Linked DNA regions of Homo sapiens: region 1 is linked to region 2. The links come from fine-mapping of genetic effects on gene expression. A gene starts in region 2. The other region holds a variant in brackets. All regions are shown on one strand. Distances are from middle to middle. Region 1 overlaps SLC6A13 (solute carrier family 6 member 13). Region 2 holds the start of SLC6A13 (solute carrier family 6 member 13).

Evidence for each region.
Region 1: its variant is fine-mapped to the expression of SLC6A13 in thyroid (GTEx, PIP above 0.99). The same link has a PIP of 0.9 or more in liver.

Annotation. Positions count from the first base shown.
Region 1 is chr12:225,386-228,297 of GRCh38, reverse strand. SLC6A13 (solute carrier family 6 member 13) reads left to right here. Exons shown (of 15, transcript NM_016615.5): 8 at 630-733; 9 at 1,784-1,908. Among named protein-coding and RNA genes, the nearest start is that of SLC6A12, 13 kb to the right of the region's middle. The variant G/T (reference allele first, on the strand shown) is at 1,542.
Region 2 is chr12:261,477-264,388 of GRCh38, reverse strand. SLC6A13 (solute carrier family 6 member 13) reads left to right here and starts at 1,553. Exons shown (of 15, transcript NM_016615.5): 1 at 1,553-1,600.

The DNA.
Region 1 (2,912 bases), 36 kb after region 2:
CACGGGCTGGGCGAGCCAGCTGAGATAATAACAATAACAACTGAACTCTATGTTTAGCTGGACTGTGATTTTTTTCCCTCCCAAGGAGTACAAAGCCCTTTTCAGAGGTGTTTCTGTTCGTCCTTTTGCCTTTTTGTGAGCCGAGAATTACTCTCCCTGTCTTTAGACAGAGGTTGCTGAGACGTGAGGGGCAAAGCTACATACTGGTGGTGGCCCTGCTATTAGGGACAGTGTTCCTGGAGACCCTGTGCCTGGATTCCTCCACACTGGTCATAGGAGAGAGTGGGGGCAGAACCTAGGATCAAAAACCTGACAGGAGACCTAGCTTCATTCTAGAGCCCTGTCCCACCCTCCTACACGCTTCCACCATGGGTCTTTTAGTCTTTTTCATTTTCTTTGAATGCCTAATGCCTGTTCTATCCTAGTAGTGCCCAAGAAACTTCACCTAGGAGTCCAGGGAGTAGAGCCCACTGGGGTGAGCAGAGGTAGCAGGATGCAAGTGTTGGCTGAGAACAGGTTTCTCGCCATCCCTAGCCAGTGTCTGGCTCAGCCACATGCCTGTGTCCGCCCATGGCTTGAATGGCCTGGCTTTCCTGGGAGTTCACCTTTCTTGCCCTTCCCCTTTGTAGGTGTGGATGGATGCAGGCACCCAGATATTCTTCTCCTTCGCCATCTGTCTTGGGTGCCTGACAGCCCTGGGCAGCTACAACAAGTACCACAACAACTGCTACAGGTGATTGGGGGCGTGGGGCCTGAGCCACACACCTGCATCTCTCTACTGTCCTTCCAGCCACGCTAGACGAGGGTGAGTTGGAGGGTGCATCAGCTCCTGGATCTGCCCCCCTGTCTACACCCCCATATCCAACACCCCAGGGCTACCAGGAGCTGCAAGGAGCCAACTGCAAGATGGACAGAGAATTGCATCCGAAAGGGTGGGATAGTTGTGATTGGCTGGGAGACCACAGCAGGGGTGCCTGGCCTCCTGGCTGATGTAGAGGTTAGTGGGCTCAGGAGTGCTGGGTAAGCAAGCCTGAGAAGCACCACAGGTCTTTGAATAATGTCGTTTCCTTATAACTTTGATGAGAGAAAAAAAACTGGTTTCATTATAGGTTGTTTTGCTTAAAATGGCAATTTGCGAGAATGTATCCATGATGTGAAGTGAGGTCCTACTGTGCACCCCAGTCTTGCTTGCTTGGTAAATCTGCCCCCAAAACTTTGAATCCTTGCCCCTTTTTCACACCATCTCCCTCACTTCACATCCTGTCCCCCTCGTTCTCTCCTTGCCTACCTGGTTTGTGCTCAGAAAATTTAAGCCAATTTTAATACACGCTGAAACACAGCTGAAGTGAAATCATATGGTGCCTCTCAAAATTGAATTCAGGCGACTAAGAGTTATTTGTTGTTTGGGATTACCCATTAGCATGCCAGATGGGATGATGGCAGAGTGGTGGCGTCCCATGCGGTGTGGACCTACGTGGTAGAGAGGGGCGGCTGTGTGGCGGTTTGTCACATCTAGATCCATGTTTTGCTTCCCTGGAGCC[G/T]CATTCTTTTAGGACTACCTTGATTTATTCCGTCCCTGGGCTGGTGGGGCCGAGGAGTGTCGGAGGAGAGCCAGTGCTTTGCGTGGTCCTCTGAATTCTGCCAGGTAGCCCTGCTCCGGCGTCCGTGAAGGGGCCAGGACAGTGTCCGCCAGGAGGGGCTGTGCTCCCAGACAGGAAGCAGGAGAGGTTGCAGCCCTGTTCTGACCCTGCCATTCCGCCCTCTCCTCACCCCTGCCCCACAGGGACTGCATCGCCCTCTGCTTCCTCAACAGCGGCACCAGCTTTGTGGCCGGCTTTGCCATCTTCTCCATCCTGGGCTTCATGTCTCAGGAGCAGGGGGTGCCCATTTCTGAGGTGGCCGAGTCAGGTGAGTGTTACTGGGGAGGCCTGGAGGCAGTGAGCCTGGTTCAAACCTCTGGCAGCAAGCGTCTAGAGGCGTTTCCATTGTGTCACCTGCACTCTGGGTGAGCTACGGCCACCATTCAGTGGATGCGTTCTGGGAAGACTTGGCGGAGAATTGAAACAGTCATTCCAGCTTTAAAGAGTAGGCCTACAGTGAACATTTTTCTTCCCATCCTTGGCTTCCAGTTCATTACCCTGGAAGCAGCCAATGTTATCTATTTCATGTTTATCCTTCCAGAAATAGTTTAGACATATATGAGAAAAAATATATATACAGACATATACATGCAATACATATTACTATTTCTATTTCTTGCCTCCTTCTTAAAAAACCAAATGATAACATATTATACACACTCTTCCGCACCTGGCCTCGTTTTGTTCACTATAAAATGAATCTCAAGGCGAAGTTTCCATCAGCAGATAGGGTTTCCCTCTTTTGTGAGTGACTGCCTTTCCACCATGCAGTGCTATTTTGCTGCTTTCAAATAACATCAAGGCCCAGGCCCCAGTCTGGATAAGCCATAAAATGTTTCTCTTGCTCACCTACTTTGCCCTGTAATAATATGATTTTTTTACCTTGGCATTCAGAAGCACGCCTGGGCCACACAGGATGCCAAGCCCTGGGCAGTGGATGTCTGTGATTCTCTTTAAGAACGATAGTGTCTCTCTCTCCCTCTTTTTTTTTTTTTTTTTAAACTGTTTGAGATAGAGTCTTGCTCTGTCACTCAGGCTGGAGTGCAGTGACATGATCTCGGCTCACTGCAACCTCCGCTTCCCGGGCTGAAGTGATTCTCATGCCTCAGCTTCCCGAGTAGCTGAGATTACAGGCATGTGCCACCACGCCCGGCTAATTTTTGTATTTTTAGTAGAGACAGGGTTTCACCTTGTTGGCCAGGCTGGTCTTGAACCTCTGGCCTCAAGTGATCCACCCACCCCAGCCTCCCAAAGTGCTGGGATTATAGGCAT
Region 2 (2,912 bases):
AAATGCCAAAGTTTATAATGCATAGTAGGCCATTAGTAAGTACCACTCAGTGATACGTAAAAATGGAAGTCAATAGCACTGCTTTGAAGATGGTCTTTTTTTTACATGAGTTTGTAGGCTGTCTCAGGACGCTTTTGGTTTATTGCTTTACAGAGCTCAGTCTAACAGATGAAAGCTTGAAAGGGGAGAGGAACAGGGGCCGCTGAAACATAAGAATAATAATTTCCAAGAAGCTTCTGGGAAGCTCTCCAGGTATTACCATGCAGTGTTTCCATGCCCCTACCCCATGCCCTTGAGTTAGATGAGGGATCAAGGAAACGGAAACTACCTTAGACTCTTCGATCCGTCTTTCTTTCCACACTTCTCCGTCATCTCAAGATGTCTCTATCACCTCACTCACTCATTGCCGCATCCCCTACCTAACTCATTCTCACAGTCTGGCCAGAGCCCAGCTTAGCTCAGGGGTCTCTCAGTCCCGTCTCCTTCAAGAAGACTTCCGGGCTCACTGCTCACTGTGAATAATCCCTTAAGGATGAATAACAGCTGCCATTTACAGTTAGTCATCATCTCCTGAAATCTCAAGCTAGACAGTGGCATACGTAGGACTCAGACCCCACACTCTCTGGTGTCAAAGTCTGAGCAGGTTTCCACTACATGTACTGTGCTTCAGCACATGGCTGAGGTGGGACTCTGCCCTGTCCTAGACTCCAGGCTGAATGAACTACTCTCACAGCCGCCTCTGTGGGCTGTTCCTGCAGAGAAACGAAGCTCCCTGGATGACCTCGGCCTCGCGCTCACCGCCTGCTCCTTCCCTTATAACAGCTTTAGGGCTTTGCTTTATTTTAAACGTTGGCACTTCCTTTTCTCTATTGATTTAAAAAATATTTTAAAATTCTAGCATATTAAAAAATCTAAACAATATTGAAAAAGTGGGGAAAAAATCTCCCTTACTGCCATCTCCTGATCTCAGTTCCACTCTACAAATGTAACTACTATTAATCATTTAGCGAAGATTTTTTCAGACTTTTTCTATATGTGTATAAATGTCTGTGTATGTTTGGGAAGTTTTTCTGACATCTCAGAGTTCTGTATCTATGTATCTTTGTTCTAAATCATCGTCCATTCCACATTGCAAGCTGCGAAACGGTAAGATAAATGTATTTTTAAATTAATCTACACAGCACCTGACCAAAGGAATACCTATTCTTGATGGATTTATAGGAGCACTTGTGTTGGAGACAGGGGTGGGAGGCAGGATCCCTCCAGAGAGACCCTGAGCTCACCAGGTGGGAAGCGCACATGAGCTCCGGGGAGGAGACCACACTTCATAAGCTCACCAGCAACTGGCCCGACCTGCCAGGGCGTGCACACTCCCCAGACTGCGAAATCACTCATGTGTGGGTTGTCCAGTGGCCGAGGGGAGGGGAGGGGAGAAAAGGGGAGGGGGAGGCACAAGGGTGGAATGTGGGCTGGGCCAAGTTTAGAATTTCAAGTGCCACAGAGGCGTTCTGGAACCACACTTTAAATAGCCAGCACCTTCTCCTTCCCCCTTAGATAATTCTTCTCCCCTGACTGGACCTCTGGCAGCAGCTTCACTAAGGTTCGAAATGTTTTCTTCTCTTTTTTTTCTATTTCTGCGTCTCAGACTGCAGGTTGGTGGGATCCATGGGACTTACAACCAAAGGACTTTTTTCTTACCCTCGCCTAGAAAGTACGCTTCTGACATGTATGTGTGCAAATGCAAAGATTATGTGCTATTTTCTTGACTTTCTGAAACTTGGGTGGCTGTTGACTTAAGTGACACTGTGATTTGGAAAGAGAGAGCCCTAGATTGAGAGGAAAGACAACTGGATTTAACTCCAAGAAAACAAAGTCTTTCTTCTCTGAGAAAAGAGAACAATGATCAACTCTGACAGGACTGAAAGAAAACAAAAATTTGAGTACCTGTTATTCTATTAAGTGTGTATACATATGTATATTTCCTCATTTAATTCTTATAGCTAAGTATATCCTATCTATCATCCCCACTTTTACAGATGAACAAACTAAGGCTCAGAGTCATTCATTAACTTCTCTGAAGTCAGACATTGGTATGAGAAAAAACTAATGTTTGAACCTGGCCTCATCTGACTCTACAGCTCATGACCTTTCAGACACAACATGCTACCTCTGAGAAGCAGCTCTAATGAGGCTAAGGGAGCCAGGAGAAGGCTACTGTTTCTCCTAGGGTCTGGGAGGGTGGAGAAGGGAAGGCTTTCCATCACTGGGAGAGATCCATCAGCTGGTAAAGGGAGGGGAGGCCAGCACAGTCAGTACCTTAGACAACCTTCCCAAAAGGACTGAGGAGCCCTCTTGGGACCAGTTACTTGAGTTTCTCCTTTGTAGAAAGGAGCTCATTCCCTAATTTATCAGATAAACATAGATGCCTGCTGTTCCCTGACTTTTTTTTTTTTTCTTTTTTTTGAGACAGAGTCTCGCTTTGTTGCCCAGACTGGAGTGCAGTGGCGCGATCTCGGCTCACTGCAACCTCTGCCTCCTGGTTTCAAGCGATTCTCCTGCCTCAGCCTCCTGAGTAGCTGGGATTACAGGTGCCTGCCACCATGCCCAGCTAATTTTTGTACTTTTCGTAGAGACGGGGTGTCACCATGTTGGCCAGGCTGGTCTCAAACTCCTGACCTCAGGAGATCCACCCGCCTCGGCCTCCCAAGTGCTGGGATTACAGGCGTGAGCCATTGCACCCGGCCTGTTCACTGACTTTCTAATTTTCTGGGTCAGAGCCAAAGTAGAGTCTGTGGCCAGAAGAGGTTACTGCTGAGAAAGTTCTGTTAACATGAACTTTGCTTGAGGCTTAGAAAAAAGTCCATCTGCCTCCTTCTCCAGAAAAGAGGCCACTCTGCAAAATCAAGGCAGAG